Linked DNA regions of Homo sapiens: region 2 is linked to region 1. A link means that fine-mapping ties the variant in region 1 to the expression of a gene that starts in the linked region. Tissue or cell type: whole blood. Region 1 holds a variant in brackets; the other region holds the start of a gene. All regions are shown on one strand. Distances are from middle to middle.

Region 1 (8,101 bases):
CTCCTTCCTCTTCCCCCTCCTCCTCCCCGGGCAGGTCCTAGAGCTCCTGAAGGTGGCCTGGAAGAGGCGGCTCATCTTCACAGTGGGCACGTCCAGCACCACGGGTGAGACGGACACCGTGGTATGGAACGAGATCCACCACAAGACAGAGATGGACCGCAACATTACGGGCCACGGCTATCCCGACCCCAACTACCTGCAGAACGTGCTGGCTGAGCTGGCTGCCCAGGGGGTGACCGAGGACTGCCTGGAGCAGCAGTGACCTCGCACCCCAGCACGCCCGCCTCTGGTGGCCACCCCGCTGCCCCATGGCTGGCTGGGTGGCCAGGCAGGAAGTGCCCAGCCCGAGAGGCTGGGAGGTTTGTTGAGGGTGTGGGGTGTGCCCCACCTGAAGCCGGGGCTCCCCCTGCCTGCCTCTCTCTCCTCCTCCCCTCTGGGAATTGGGCAGCCCTGGGCAGTTGTACTCATGGGGGCTTAGGATGCAGCTACCTCAGTGCGCAGGGCCCGTCTGTCCTCTGGGGGCTGCTTCGGGCCCGCGGTGCTCGGGGCCTGGTGTGGGGCGAGTAGAGACTTCCCCAGCCTGGACGGGCGTGGGTTCTGGGTCAGCTTCTTTTACCTCAATTTTGTTTGCAATAAATGCTCTATAGCCAAAGCCAGCAGGTCCTGAGTGTGTGCATGCATGCGTGTGTGCGCACTTGTGTGTGTGTGTGCCCCCCCCCACTTCCTGCATCAGAGCAAGAGGGGGTTCCATGGGCTCATCGGCTCCCATTTGATAACTGAAGAACAGGCCACAGCCAGGCATGGAGGAGCCCACGGTACTGGGCTGTGCGGCCTCCACATGCCCTACACTGATCTCCCTGCCATGCCAGAGGCTGTCACCCCAGAGCACCAGCTGTCACCTTTGTGGCCCTGGGGTTGTGGTTCACAAAATGCCATTCACTTAGGATTGGAGCTGCTGTCTCTGTTTTACTGATGTGGAAACAGGTTCAAAGGTGCAATGACTTGAACCAGGCATGGTGACGCATGCCTGTTATCCCAGCTGCTCAGAAGGTCGAGACAGGAGGCTCACTGTAGTCCAGACATTTGAGACCAGCCTGAGCAAAATTGCAAGACCTCATCTCTAAAAAAAAAATTAGGCCAGGTGCAGTGGCTCACGCCTCTAATCCTAGCACTTTTGGGAGGCTGAGACAGGTGGATCACCTGAGGTCAGGAATTTGAGACCAGCTTGGCCAACATGGCAAAACATCGTCTCTACTGAAAATACGAAAATTAGCCAGGCGTGGTGGCATGCAGCTGTAATCCCAGCTACTCAGAAGGCTGAGGCAGGAGAATCATTCGAACCTGGGAGGTGGAGGTTGCAGTGAGCCAAGGTCGTGCCACTGCACTCCAGCCTGAGCCACAGAGCGAGATTCCGTCTCAAAAAAATAAATAAATAAGCCAGGCATGGTGGCACCTGTCTGTAGTCCCAGCGGTCGGGAGGCTGAGGCGGGAGGATCGCTTGAGCCCAGGAGCTCAAGGCTGCAGTGAGCTATGATTGCACCACTGCACTCCAGCCTGGGCAACAGAGCAAGATCCCATCTGTAAAATCATAATAAAAAGAGACAGATTGAATGCTTGGCTAGGTAGGTGGAATCCAGGCCAGGGTTGATCTGACACCATTCTCAAAGTTCTAATTCTTCCTCCTCTTGGAAGGAGGATCAGATATCCCCAGTCAAGATCTTGCTGCTTGTCCGGGAGGAGTAGTTTGGGCCTGGGACCAGAGGGGGACGGTAGGGCCACCTCATTCATGGCTGTGGAAAGCAGAGGCACTTTGGCCTTGGTGAGCCCCTTTCTCTGTTAAACCTATTTTACAACATGTTGGTATAAAGATGAATATATTAATGTATACTAGAGGATTTTCTCTCACCTAAAGGTTCATTTTTTTCCCTTCTGATTTTAAAAGAAATTAAAAATGTATGTCAGCTCTTATAGTGTGGGCCCAGGGCACTGTGCCTAATGGTAAGTTGGTCCAGGGTAAAAAGGGTAGTGAGGTCTCTCTAGAAGACCCCAGTGTTGGCCGGGTACAGTGGCTCAGGCCTGTCATCCCAGCACTTTGGGAGGCTGAGGCGGGAGGATCACAAGGTCAGGAGTTCGAGACCAGCCTGGCCAACGTGGTGAAACCCCCTCTACTAAAAATACAAAAATTAGCTGGGCATGGTGGTGTGCACCTACAATTCCAGCTAACTTGGGAGGCTGAGGCAGGAGAATTGCTTGAACCCGGAAGGCAGAGGTTGCAGTGAGCCGAGATCACGCCACTGTACTCCAGCCTGGCGACAGAGCAAGACTCCGTCTCAAAAAATATATATAAAAACAAAACCATGAGATGCCACACTACACCCATTACGATGGCTATACTAAAACAAAAAGCAGTGTTGGAGAGGATGTCGAGAAATGGGACCCTCATCCACTGCTACTGGGAATGTAAAATGCAGCCACTTTGGCAAACAGAACCTCAGAAAGCAGCATTAGCATATGACCACAGTTCCACTCCTAGGTACATTCTCAAGAGAATTGAAAATGTGCCCACAGAAGCCTGCGCACGGATGCTCATGGCAGCATTATTTACAGTAGCCCCACAGTGGAAAAAAACAAATTCTGCATCCACTGATGAATGAAAGTGTGATACGTTCACAGGATGGAATATTACTCAACTGTGAAAAGGAATGAAGCAATCACAGTCGAGGAGGAACCTTGAAAAAGTAACAAAAGCCAGACACAAAAGGTCACATGTTGTGTGACTGCATCCTATGAAATGTCCATTACGGGCAAAACCATGGAAACAAGAAGTAGCTTAGTCGTCACTGGGGACGGGAGAATGGAGAGTTACCGTTTAATGGGTGTAGTGTTTCGTTTTGGGGAAGTAAGAAGGTTCTGGAATTGGTGATGGTTGCACAACCTTGTTGATATACTAAAAGCTGTTGGGCGCTGTGGCTCATGCCTGTAATCTGGGCACTTTGGGAGGCTGAGGCAGGAGGATCCCTTGAGCCAGGAGTTCAAGACCAGGCTGGGCAACACAGTGAGACCCTGTCTCTACAAGAAATATATTTTTATTATATTTTTTTTGAGACAGAGTCTCACTCTGTCATCCACGCTGTAGTGCGGTGGTGCGATCTCAGCTCACTGCAACCTCCGCCTCCCGGGTTCAAGTCATTCTCCTGCCTCAGCCTCCCGAGTACTTGGGATTACAAGCACGTTCCACCACACCCGGCTAATTTTTGTAATTTTAGTCGAGACAGGGTTTCACCATGTTCGCCAGGCTGGTCTCGAACTCATGACCTCAAGTGACCTGCCCACCTCGGCCTCCCAAAGTGCTGGGATTACCGCCGTAAGTCACTACACCCAGCCTCAAAAACTATATTTTTAAAAATTAGCAGCTGGGCGCAGTGGCTCATGCCTGTAATCCCAGCACTTTGGGAGGCCAAGGCAGGTAGATCGCGAGGTCAGGCGTTCGAGACCAGCCTGGCCAAGTTGGTGAAACCTCATCTCTACTAAAAATACAAAAATTAGCTGGGCATGGTGGTAGGTGCCTGTAGTCCCAGCTACTAGGGAGGCTGAGGCAGAAGAATTGCTTGAACCCAGGAGGTGGAGGTTGCAGTGAGCAGAGATCAC[G/A]CCATTGCACTCCAGCCTGGGCGACAGGGTGAGACTCCATGTCTCAAAAAAAAAAAAAAATAGCCAGGCACGGTGGCTCACGCCTGTAATCCCAATACTTTAGGAGGCCAAGGCAGGAGATTTGCTTGATCCTCCCAGGAGTTAGAGATCAGCCTGGGCAACATAGCAAGATCCTGTTTCTATAAAAAATACATTTTTAAAAATTGGCCAGCCGGGCGCAGTGGCTCACACCTGCAATCCCAGCGCTTTGGGAGGCTGAGGTGGGTGGATCACCTGAGGTCAGGAGTTCGAGACCAGCCTCACCAACGTGGAGAAACCCTATCTCTACTAAAAATACAAAATTAGACAGGTGTGGTGGCACATGCCTGTAATCCCAGCTACTCAGGAGGCTGAGGCAGGAGAATCACTTGAACCCAGGAGGTGGAGGTTGCGGTGAGCCAAGATCGAGCCATTGTACTCCAGCCTGGGCAACAAGAGTGAAAACTCCGTTTCAAAAAAAACAAAAAAAAAATTGGCGGGGGTGCCAGGCACGGTGGCACATGCCTGTAATCCCAGCACTTTGGGAGGCCAAGGCGGGTGGATCACTTGAGATCAGGAATTTGAGACCAGCCAAGCCAACATGGTGAAACCCCGTCCCTACTAAAAATACAAAAATTAGCTGGCCGTGGGGCACATGCCTGTAATCCCAGCTACTTGGGAGGCTGAGGCAGGAGAATCGCTTGAACCCAGGAGGCGGAGGTTGCAGTGAGCCCAGATCACGCCACTGCACTCCAGCCTGGACAACAAAGGAGACTCCATCTTAAAAAAAAATTAATTAAATAAATTTTAAAAATTAGCCGGAGCATGGTGTTGTGTGCCTGTGGTTCCAGCTACTGGGAAGGCTGAGGTGGGAGGATTAACTGAACCTGGGAGTTTGAGGCTCCAGTTAGCTGTGAACTGACCTCCCTGGGTGACATATATATATTTAAGCCACTGAGCTGTGAAGGTTGTGAAGGTATGTGAGTTATGTCTTGAAAAATACACACATAGTGAGCGCCAAATCCCGGGAGTAGTGTTTAAGTGGCGGGCTTGTCAGCTGTCAAGGGCTCTGCAGCCCTTTCTCTGAATCCAAGTTCTTCTTCCTGTGGACAGGGAACCCAGGCTGCGAACTGGGAGGATGTGGCCTCGTGGGGGGCAGGGCCAGCGTGCTGTGATGGGGATGGGGCTGGGCAGGTTGGGGCTGCCTGCTACTCCCCACTCCTGACTCTGGGTGGGGACAGAAGGCAGAGGGAGGCTCCTGGCACCTGGGGCACAGGAATCTCAGGCATGTGGTCCTGAGCCTGTTTCCAAAAGCCAGACCCTCCTCCCCAGGGCGGAGAGACTGGGAGGGGCCCCAATCCAGGCTCCGGGATGGCCTGGCTGGCATCTGGGGTTCCAGTGGCCCCTCTCCCTTGGCCCTGGCAGTGGGGCTGGATACTGGCCTGCCTCCCACCAGAGTCCCCCCAGCTCCTCCCTGCTGTGGGCTGGCCTGGGAGGAAGGGGGTGGGGTGCACTTACATTTGCAGGTCTTTCCAGCCCCTGGGGCAGCCTGATTAACCAGCTTCTCCAGGGCCAAGCTGTTGGGGGTGAGGTGCAGCCCGAAGCAGCCAGACCAGCCCCTGAGCCTCCCGGGTGCTGGCAGCTGTCATGGGGCTACCCTGGGGGCAGCCTCACCTAGGGCTGCAGATGCTCCTCCTGGCGTTGAACTGTCTCCGGCCCAGCCTGAGCCTGGGTGAGTGGGGGTCCTGGATGGACGCGTCCAGCCAGACCCAAGGGGCTGGGGGCCCTGCTGGAGTGATTGGACCCTGGGCGCCCGCCCCCCTCCGATTGGGAGAGGCAGCCCCAGGGACCCCCACGCCCGTCTCCGTGGCTCACCTTTTGTCCCCCGTGGCCACAGAGCTGGTGCCCTACACACCACAGATAACAGCTTGGGACCTGGAAGGGAAGGTCACAGCCACCACCTTCTCCCTGGAGCAGCCGCGCTGTGTCTTCGATGGGCTTGCCAGCGCCAGCGATACCGTCTGGCTCGTGGTGGCCTTCAGCAATGGTACGGGGACTGCTGTGGGGCCTGGGTGAGGGTGACGGCTGAGGAGAGTGGTGGGCCCTAGGAGCCCCTCACCAGCAAGCGCCTTCAATGATTGAGCCCCTGTGGGGGCCTTTGGGAGAGTAGGTGTGGATGAATTGGGCTTTATCTAAAGGGGTAATATGTGTATTGAAAAATACACACGTAGTGAACACCAAATCCCGGGAGTAGTGCTAGTGGTGGGTTTGTCAGCTGTCAAGGGCTCTGCAACCCTTTCTCTGAATCCAAGTAGTTCTTCCTTTGGACAGGGAACCGAGGCTGCGACCTGGGAGGATGTGGCCTCCTGTGGGGCAGGGCCGGTGCACTGCAATGGGGCTGGGGCTGGGGCTGGGCAGGTTGGGACTGCCCGCTGCTCCCCACTCCTGGCTCTGGGTGGGGACAAAAGGCCAGAGGGAAGCTCCCCTTCAGGGGTAACAAAGTCGACTGGGTCTGGACTATCTCTGGGGGCCCTGAGGGAGGAGGTGGCATGGGGGGTCAGGGCTGGAGACTGGGCGAACACAGAACCCCCACTCATAAGGACAAAGCTGCTTTCTCCCCTCCCACCTCCATCTGTTCTCTCCTCCTGCAGCCTCCAGGGGCTTCCAGAACCCGGAGACACTGGCTGACATTCCGGCCTCCCCACAGCTGCTGACCGATGGCCACTACATGACGCTGCCCCTGTCTCCGGACCAGCTGCCCTGTGGCGACCCCATGGCGGGCAGCGGAGGCGCCCCCGTGCTGCGGGTGGGCCATGACCACGGCTGCCACCAGCAGCCCTTCTGCAACGCGCCCCTCCCTGGCCCTGGACCCTATCGGTGGGTGGTCCCCACCGGAGCCCTGGGACTGGGGCTGTGCTTGGGGCGGACGCATTGCTGGGACCAGGGATGCTCTCTCTAGCATCTTTCCAGGGAGGGGTCCCCGGCCCCGGTCCTCCCCTTTGCAAGCCCGGGCTCCTTCCACTGTAGAGTCAGCAACAGTGCTCACCCCCGCTGGGGCCGGGCAAGGCCCAGGAGGAGCAGGTGGGCACCTTGGGGAGGCGGGATCTTAGTCAAGGTGGGAGGGGGCAGCTTCCCCAAAGTCTAGGCCCCTGTCCCCCACCACGGGCAGATCTGGCAGGAAACTCGGGGGCCGAGTTCAGACCCAGTCTCGTCGGTATTAGGCAGGGAGCAGGAGAGGTGGCTCCTACCCGCTCTTACAGATGAGGAAACTGAGGCACAGGAGGTCAAGTGGCCTGCCAACATCGGGGTGGAGCCGGGATGGGGAAGCAGGCAGTGTGTCCAGGTCAGGACTGTCCGGACACAGGAGGAGGCGGGGTGACCTCAGGAAGACCAGGCCCAGGGGAAGCCGGGAAGGCAGGGCGTGGTGAGGCTGGAACAGCACCCCGCTCCGCCCAGCCCCCTTCTGCCCTCTCACCCACTCTCCAGGTCCACCCTCTGCCCTCCCCGCTGCCTCACCCTGGCTCAGCCTTCCAGCTCCATGCCCCGCCCCATCCCCCGCAGCCACTCTTTTCAATGCCAACCTGCCAGGTCCTTCCCCGCTTCCCAGGCCTTGCAGAGCTCCCAGCCCTGCAAAGAGACAAACCGAGGCCCTCTGCGGGGCTCCTGGTGCCCTGGGTCCTCAGGCTGCTGGTGATTGAGCCCCCTGCCCCCGGCTACTGCTGCCCCTCTGGGAGGCCTGTGACCCCTGCCCCATGTGCCCTGCTAAGCCACCTTCACCTGCTCTTTTGGCTTGTGACATTTAGGAACCAGGGCCCCTAAACCAGCATCCCCGGCCCAGGTCTGGTGTCTGGAGAGCAATTGCTCGGGGGGATGAGGGGTGGTGGCACAGGCCAAGTGGCTGGAGACATCTCAGGGGATTCTCAGAGCAGGGCCAGGCCATGGGCTGCTGCTCTTGACGGGCACCCCCACTCCACATCCATGGGAGGGCCCCAGAGGAGCTGCCTGGGGCTTGGCCCTGCCCAGGGTGGTCCCAGCCTCTGAAGCTCTCCCCTCCTCCCCCACCACCTCCCATCCCCAGGGTGAAGTTCCTCCTGATGGACACCAGGGGCTCACCCAGGGCTGAGACCAAGTGGTCAGACCCCATCACTCTCCACCAAGGTAGCGCTGGGCAGGAGGGGCGCTGCCCCCAGTGGACTCACGATCTCTCTGGGCCGCCTCTGCTGAGCTGGCCACACCCCTGCTCCCACAGGGCTGGGGGCCTGGAGGCCATGTCCAAGTCGGGCCCAGCCCCCAACAGAACCTCATGCTGGGGGAGTGGGGCACCCAGCCAGCCCCCTCGGCAGGGGCACCATCTCGGCCCATCCGCAAGCGTTTGCCACATTGTGGGCACAGACAGCCTCCCCCCTCCTGTAGGGAGTCAGCCTGTGTCAGCCCC
Region 2 (8,101 bases), 47 kb before region 1:
TCTCAAAAAATAAATAAATAAAATCTTTAACAATTCTTCAGCTTATCCGCCTACCTTCTGGGGCTTCTTGGGTCTCTTCCCAGAAACTTTCTTCGTCTGTAAGCCCGTTTATTGTATGCAATTGTTTAAAAAACACAAATGGGTGCATATTCTCATATTCTCTACCCTCTATTTTGAACGTTCCTTTTTTTTCTTTTTTTCAGACCGAGTCTCAGTCTGTCACCCAGGCTAGTGCAATGGTGCAATTTTGGCTCACTACACCCTCTGCCTCCCAGATTCAAGCGATTCTCCTGCCTCAGCCTCCCGAGTAGGTGGATTACAGGTGTGCACCGCTGCACCCAGCTAATTTTTGTATTTTTAGTAGAGACGAGGTTTCACCATGTTGGCCAGACTGGTCTTGAACTCCTGATCTCAGGTGATCCACCTGCCTCCGCCTCCCAAAGTGCTGGGATTATAGGCATGAGCCGCCTTGCCTGGCTCAAAGTTCCTTTTTGGTTTAACAATAGATCTAGGCCACTGTGAGTCTTCCTCATTCCTTCTAGGGCTACCTAGTGTTCCGGGGTTATTTAACCAGCCCCCTCCTACCAGGCAGTTCTTTTGTCTCTGGCCCTTTGCTACGTATATTAGTTTAAAGTTCACTTTGCAAGTGGCCAAGCCTGTTTCCCTCATTTCCAGGTTCCCAGGGGGCAGACATCCTGCTGCAATTTCAGAAGTCAGCACACTCTTCTCTCTCCTGTCTAAAATACAAAAGTCCATGCCCCCCACTCTCCCTCTTGATACTGTCCTATTTTACTTCTTTTCACAACCAGAACTCTTTATTTTTCCCAAATAAAAATAGTCCGTCTTTTCAGATTTTAAAAATGGAACTCTGGCCGGATGCGGTGGCCCTCACCTGTAATCCCAGCACTTTGGAAGGCTGCAGTGGGCAGATTACCTGAGGTCAGGAGTTTGAGATCAGCCTGGCTGACATGGTGAAACTCTGTCTCTACTAAAAATACAAAAATTAGCCCGGATGCGGTGGCTCACATCTGTAATCCCAGTACTTTGGGAGACCGAGGTGGGCAGATCACGAGGTCAGGAGTTCAAGACCAGCCTGGCCAACATGGTGAAACCCTGTCTCTACTAAAATACAAAAATTAGCTGGGCATGGTGGCATCCGCCTGTAATCACAGTTACTCGGCAGGCTGAGGAAGAATTGCTTGAACCTGGGAGGCGGAGTTTGCAGTGAGCTGAGATTGTGCCATTGCACTCCAGCCTGGGCGACAGAGCAAGACTCCGTCTCAAAAATATATATATATACAAAAATTAGCTGAGTGTGGTGGTGCATGCCTGTAATCCCAGCTACTCGGGAGGTGAGGCAGGAGAATCACTTGAACCTGGGAGGCGGAGGTTGCAGTGAGCCGAGATTGTGCCATTTCACTCCAGCCTGGACAACAAGAGCAAAACTCGTCTCAAAAAAAAAAAAAAGGAAAATAAAAATCCCTGATAAAGGATCAATGACCTTAGGATAATGTCATTCCAGGTAAGTATCTTTAACTGGGTACTTGGTCCTCCAAGATTCAGAGGACCTTGATCCCCCTGAAACTGTATACATAATATTCAACATACATAGTATGTGCACACATGTGCAAACACTCACATTATCTAAAATTCATCATAATCTTACCCCGGCTTCTCCCCACACTCCTCAGATCCTGCTATAGCCTAGTGCATTTTCTCCTTCCTCACTCCCTTCCCTCCATGTGTCCTCTGCCCTGGCCACCAGGAACTTTGTGCTGCCTCCGGAGTGCATGAGGCACTTTCACATCTCTCTTGCTTTACAAGAGCTTCCCTATGCTCCAACTGGCAAATTTCTCTATGGACTGAAAAACCCACATAGCCTTTATCTGTCTTGTGATGTCTTCTCCCCACCCTCAAGTTAGGCATACCCTTCTATGCCCTCCTTTATCCAAACATTTTCCCCACTATATCGTAATTGTGTGTTTAAGTGCCGGACTTTCCAACTAGATACAAAGCTTTCCCAGGAAAGAAATCCTTTTCTTTTCTTCTTTCTTTCTTTTCTTTTCTTTTCTTTCTTTTTTTTTTTTTTTTTTTTGAGACAGATTCCCACTGTGTCGTCCAGGCTGGAGTGCAGTGGCACAATCTTGGCTCAGTGCAACCTCCACCTCCAGGGTTCAAGTGATTCTCTTGCCTCAGTCTTCCAAGTAGCTGGGATTACAGGCACGCGCCACCACACCCAGTTAATTATTATTATTATTATTATTTTTTTTTTTTTTTGAGACGGAGTCTCGCTCTGTCACCCAGGCTGGAGTGCAGTGGCACAATCTCGGCTCACTGCAAGCTCCGCCTCCCGGGTTCACGCCATTCTCCTGCCTCAGCCTCCCGAGTAGCTGGGACTACAGGAGCCCACCACTACGCCCGCTTAATTTTTTTTTTTTTTTGTATTTTTAGTAGAGACGGGGTTTCACCGTGGTCTCGATCTCCTGCCCTCGTGATCCGCCCGCCTCGGCCTCCCAGAGTGCTGGGATTACAGGCGTGAGCCACTGCGCCCGGCCTCCACACCCAGTTAATTTTTGTATTTTTAGTAGAGACGGGGTTTCACCATGTTGGCCAGGATGGTCTCAATCTCTTGACCTTGTGATCTGGCTGCCTCGGCCTCCCAAAGTGCTGGGATTACAGGCGTGAGCCACCGCTCCCGGCGAGAAACCTTTTCTTTTTCTTTTTTCTTCTTCTTCGTCTTTTTTTTTTTTTCTTTTGAGAGGGATTCCTGTTCCGTCGCCCAGGCTGGAGTGCAATGGCGCGATCTTGGCTCACTACAGCCTCTGCCTCCCGGGTTCAAGCGATTCTCTTGCCTCAGCCTCCCGAGTAGCTGGGATTACAGGCACGAGCCACCACGCCCGGCTAGTTTTTTTTGGTATTTTTAGTAGAGACGGGGTTTCGCCATGATGGCCAGGCTGGTCTGGAACTCCCGACCTCAGGTGATCCGCCCACCTCTGCCTCTCAAAGTGCAGGGATTACAGGCATGAGCCACTGCGCCCAGCCAAGAAACCATTTCTGATTCACCTATTCACTCCCGCACTCCCACTACACAGTAGCTAAATAAATAAATAAATATTAAAAATAAATAGGAAAGAAAGAGAGAAAAAAAGAAAAGAAAAAGACAAAAATTTAAATTTAAAAAGGTTGTGCTCGATGGCTCACACTTGCAACCCCAGTGCTTTGGGAGGCTGAATGAAGCAAGAGGATCGCTTGAGGCCAGGAGTTTGAGATCGGCCTGAGCAACGTTGCAGCATTGCAAAACCCCCATCTGTACAAAAAAGAAAAATAAAATTAATTTTAAAAACAAAAAAAGAGAAACAGTAGCACATGTATGTACTGGCACCATGTATGTACTAGTAAAAACTAGTTAAAATTAAGTCAGTAATTAATGAAGGAATAAGTCAATGAGTGAGCAGGCGAAGGAAGAAAACATAGACCGGAGCAGGTGCGCCTTGGGTTGAGCCCTTCCCCGCTGAGCCCCGCCTTCTGCCCGCCCCTGGGCCCTACCGGGACTACATTTCCCAGAAGGCCGCACGCCCCGGGCATGCGCAGCGGCTCGCTCGGAAGCTGCGACGCCGAGTTTCACTCTGGCTGCCTTCTCCTGAGAGTCGGAGCCACAGCCAGAGCCCTGCCCAGGCCGAGCCGGAGCTGCAGCCCGAGCGCGGTGGTGCCCTCAGCCCCGTCCTCTTGTCCTCCTCAGCCTCGGTGAGAGGGCGGGAAGGCCACCTGCGCGTCGCTAGGGCTGCGGTCCCAGGGGCGCGGGGTGGCGCGGGGAGCCGGAGCCTAGCTGGGACCGGAAGGGGGCGGGCGTGGGTGTGAGGGGGACCGACGGCCGGGGCGGCGGGGACACCCGGGGGTCCCGGGAGATCGGGGGTGTCGGGGGGATCGGTCTCCGGGATCAAGGTCCTGAGGGCGAGAGTTGGGGGACTTGGGAGGCGCCGGCAGCTTTGGACGGGACAGGGTGCCGGGTGCGAAAGGGGACGTTCGGATGAAGGCTGAGGGGCTCGCAGGCGGAGGGGCGCGGTTCCGGGTCGCTCGGAAGGCGCGCACCCCTTCCCAAAGTACCCAGAGGAGGGGGTGACGAGATTGCCACCGGCTCCCTGACGAGGGGTTGGTCCTGCTGGGGTCTACCCCCAGGTGAAGGGACTCACTGGGCCGGGGGTTGTACTTTGGAGGAGTTTGCTTCCTAACTCTGCTTCCCTGCTTTCCTGTGGGGGGTCTTCCCAGGAGTTCCTGGGGCCCTGGGTCACTTTTTGGGGTGCGTAAGGGGTGCCGAAAAAGATTTAGAACTCGGTTCCCTTTTCTGGAGCTGCGCTTTCATCGCGACTGTCTCAGCCAGCTGCCCTCCTCCTCCAAGCTGGCTCCACTTCTCTAAGCGCCAACAGCGATGGAAATAAATAGCATGTGTACAGACGCCTGGACCCTTGAGAAACTCAGAATATTTCTGCATGCCTTCCTAGCTCCTCTAGCGCTCTAGAAGGTAGACTTTCTGGTAGCCACCATCCGGGCTTAAGCCATCCGGATAGCAAGCCCTCTGATTCGGTTGCTCTGTGACCTTAAATATTTACCCTCTCTGGTGTGTTGATTTCCTGGATGCTTAGCTGCCAGACTGGCTTATGAAGTCCTTTTAGAGTTTTCTGTAAAAGGGCTCAGGCCAGGCACGGTGGCTCATGCCTGTAATCCCAGCCCTTTGGGAGGCCGAGGTGGAAGGATCATTTGAGTCCAGGAATTTGAGACAAGCCTGGGAAACGAAGAGGATTCCTGAGATCACTGTCTCTATAAAAAATCAGATGGGCGTGTTGGTGGGTGCCTGTAGTCCCAGCTACTTGGGAGGCTGAGGCAGGAGGATCGCTTGAGCCCAGGAGTTGGAGGCTGCAGTGAGCTGTGATCACACCACTGCACTGCAGCATGGGCGACAGAGGGAGACCCCGTCTCAAAAAACAAAAAACAAACAAACTAAAAAAACGAACTTTTTTTTTTTTTTAAGAAAAGGGCTCAGAGCCAGGCGTGGTGACTCGAGCCTATAATCCCAGCTACTCGGGAAGCTGAGGCAGGAGAGTAGCTTGAACCTGGGAGGCGGAGGCTGCAGTGAGCCGAGATCACGCCACTGCACTCCAGCTTGGGTGACAGAGCAAGACTCCGTCTCCAAAAACTAATAATAATAAAAAATTTTAAAAAGAGCTCAGGGTTTTTTTGTTTGTTTGCTTTTTGTTGTTTCTTCAACCATCTCCTTGATTGTTAAGTGGGTGGAGGAAGACTGTTGTACCTCCTGCTCCACCCAGGCTATTGGAAAATAAATCTGGTGATTTTCAGTCCCCAGGCACAGCACACGGATCCAACATCTGTACCTTTGTTTTTACTAACTGCTGTTTCTTAATTTAAAACCTGATCATCTTCTTCCTCGTTGGCAAAGGTGCCTTGGAATTTGTGTCGCTGAGTCAGCAAGCCTTTCAGATTTGCCCGGTTTTTGTTGTTTGTGGTTTGTATCAAGATGGGAACTCAAACAAGTCATTCCTCCTAAGGAGCTGGTGTCTTCATCCAGAAGGGACAGTTTGTGCCAGCTCTCCAGAGAGAAAAGGTGAGAGCCATGGGGACTTGACCTTGCTGCCTTCTCTATCTGGTGCAGAGAAGGTGGGGATTGGGGAGGGTGGAATTTGAGGTCTGCAGGATAAACGTGTGCCCTGGGAGTTGACTGTTGATTGCCACCTGTCTCAAATAAATTGCAGTGGCGTCTTGCCACTGCTTCTCCTGTTTAACTAACTAGTCTTAGAAGATGCTTTCCACTTTAAGACATGCTTTATGGGATAGAAGACACAAGTCACGATTTCTGCATTTGAAGTGGCAGTTTTCATTTCTTTTGTTGCATAAACCCTTACTGGGTGCCAGATAAGATCTCTGTCTTTTGGGAGTGCATTGTTTGGTGGAAAAGACAAAGCAGAGTCAGTGACAAGGTGTTGTCAGTGTGATATATACTGAGCTGGGAGAAATCACAAGGCTCTCCTACCCACATCCAGAAAGGGGACGGTTAGAGGGAAGGTCAGGAAGGCTCCTGGAAGGTGGTAGTTGAGGGGGGTTGTGAAGGAGGAGTAGGACTTAGAAAGTGGGGCACAGTCACCTGGGAGAGGAGTCAGCGTTTGCAAAGTCATGAAGCTACCGGGACACAGCTGGGCTACTGTAAGTAGCTTAGTATGTAATAGAGGAGGCTGGAAAAGCAGGCAGAGGGCTCTGAGCGAGGAGGGTTATGTGGGCCATGCCAAGACTCGGGAGTGGAAGGATTTTAGGAGATTTCTATGAGGGTCATTTTATTAATTATTTTTTTGAGTTGGGGTCTGCTTCTGCTGCCCAGGCTGGAGTGCAGTGGAGTGATCATAGTTCACCACAGCCTCAAATTCCTGGGCTCTGGGGTAGCTGAGGTGCCTACCACCATACCCGACTAATAATTTTATCTAGAGACAGTGCCGCTCTACGTTGTCCAGGCTGGTCTCTAACTCCTGGCCTCAAGGGATCCTCCCATCTCAGCCTCCCAAAGTGCTAGGATTACAGGCCTGAGCCACCGTGCCTGGCCTCGTGAGGGACATTTTAATGGAGCACACTGGAACATGTGGAATGGGTTTAGACTGGATTATTCGCTTTGTGGCGGTCTTCTTACATACATCATGCCAGCTTCTTCGTGGGGAGAGGCAGGTGAGTGGTTTTGCCCTCAGTTGCTTATAGTCTAGTTGAAGAGATAAAGTGAACATAGAGAACTGAAAAGGAACTTGCTAAGAGGGTGTTTTCTTTCATTCTTTTTGTTGTTGTTGTTTTGTTTTGTTTGTTTACTTTTTGAGACAGGGTCTTACTCTGTCACCCAGGCTGGAGAGCGGTGGTGCAATCTCAGCTCACTGCTCAACTTCACCTCCCAGGCTCAAGAGGTTCTTGTGCCTCAGCTTCCCGAGTAGCTGGACTTACAGGTGCACACCATCATGCCTGGCTGATTTAGAGGGTGTTTGCTTTCTGCTGGGCACATCCAGGCATCGTGGGAAGTGCTGTTTAAATTGGGCCATAAAAGGGTGGGTAAGGTGAGGACAGGGGACCAAGTGGGTGGGATTCAGGGTGAAGCAGAGTCATGGGGGTGGGGACAGACACGCTGATGCACATGGGAGTAGTGGATCCTCATTTACACTCTGGAAGGGAATTGTGGAGAGGGAGGTATAGATGAGGGGATGGAAGGGAAGGGCACCGGCAAATATTGTTGATAGCGAGGGAAGGGCGGTATTGTGATCGGCTTTGACTGTCAGCCTAAGGAATTTGAATTTCATTCTAGAGATCCAGGGGAGGTGTGTAAAAGACAAGATCAGAACGTTAGTTCAGGAAGCTTAATCTTTTCTGCCCCCCCATCTGAGATGTACAAGAGGGTTAGAAAGCAGAGTTGGAGAAGCTGTTTGGGAGGGAGCACTTATTTGTTTTTTTGTTTTGTTTTGTTTTTTTGAGATGGAGTCTCGCTCTGTTACCCAGGCTGGAGTGCAGTGGCGCCATCCTGGCTCACTGCAACCTCCACCTCCCGGGTTCAAGTGATTCTCCTGCCTCAGCTTCCCAAGTAGCTAGGACTACAAGCACCTGCCACCATGCCTGGCTAATTTTTGTATTTTTAGTAGAGACGGGGTTTCCCTCTGTTGGCCAGGCTGGTGTCGAACTCCTGACCTCAGGTGATGCACCCACCGAGGCCTCCCAAAGTGCTGGGATTACAGGCGTGAGCCACTGCGCCCGGCAGGGAGGGGGTAAAGTGAGAGGCATAAGGGTCCCGGCCAGGTGTTAGCAGGGGGCTTCAGAGGTGAGGAGAGAGCAGGGCAGGCAGCTGCTAGGCCTGGGGGAGCGGGCTGCGGAGGACTGAGAATCTGAGGTTTTTCTCTTGGCCGCCTGGGGGAAATCCAGGGGGAAAAGGAGAATGAGGAAGGAAGATGCGTTTGGCCTCAGACGTGTTGAAGGTATTAAGAGGCCAACAGGAAATGAGGCCATGGGCTAGAGAGAAGAGCCCTGATTCATTCCCCAAATGCCTCCCGAAATTCTGTGCGCCGAGGCTTGT

What was found. PIP is the estimated chance that this variant, and not a neighbour inherited with it, causes the effect.
Region 2: DTX2 starts here. The variant in region 1 is fine-mapped to the expression of DTX2 in whole blood (TOPMed, PIP above 0.99).

Annotation. Positions count from the first base shown.
Region 1 is chr7:76,505,340-76,513,440 of GRCh38, forward strand. DTX2 (deltex E3 ubiquitin ligase 2) reads left to right here. Exons shown (of 11, transcript NM_001102594.3): 11 at 35-652. The coding sequence ends at 262. It overlaps UPK3B (uroplakin 3B), which reads left to right and starts at 5,213. Exons shown (of 6, transcript NM_001347684.2): 1 at 5,213-5,398; 2 at 5,564-5,713; 3 at 6,318-6,543; 4 at 7,745-7,824. The coding sequence starts at 5,314. LOC124901675 (a long non-coding RNA gene) reads right to left here and starts at 5,394. Exons shown (of 2, transcript XR_007060388.1): 1 at 5,185-5,394; 2 at 2,842-4,769. RefSeq lists a silencer at 3,595-3,800 and enhancers at 4,678-5,250, 5,251-5,823, 6,577-7,228, 7,229-7,880, 7,881-8,101. The variant G/A (reference allele first, on the strand shown) is at 3,649.
Region 2 is chr7:76,458,093-76,466,193 of GRCh38, forward strand. It overlaps DTX2 (deltex E3 ubiquitin ligase 2), which reads left to right and starts at 3,617. Exons shown (of 11, transcript NM_001102594.3): 1 at 3,617-3,744; 2 at 5,453-5,617.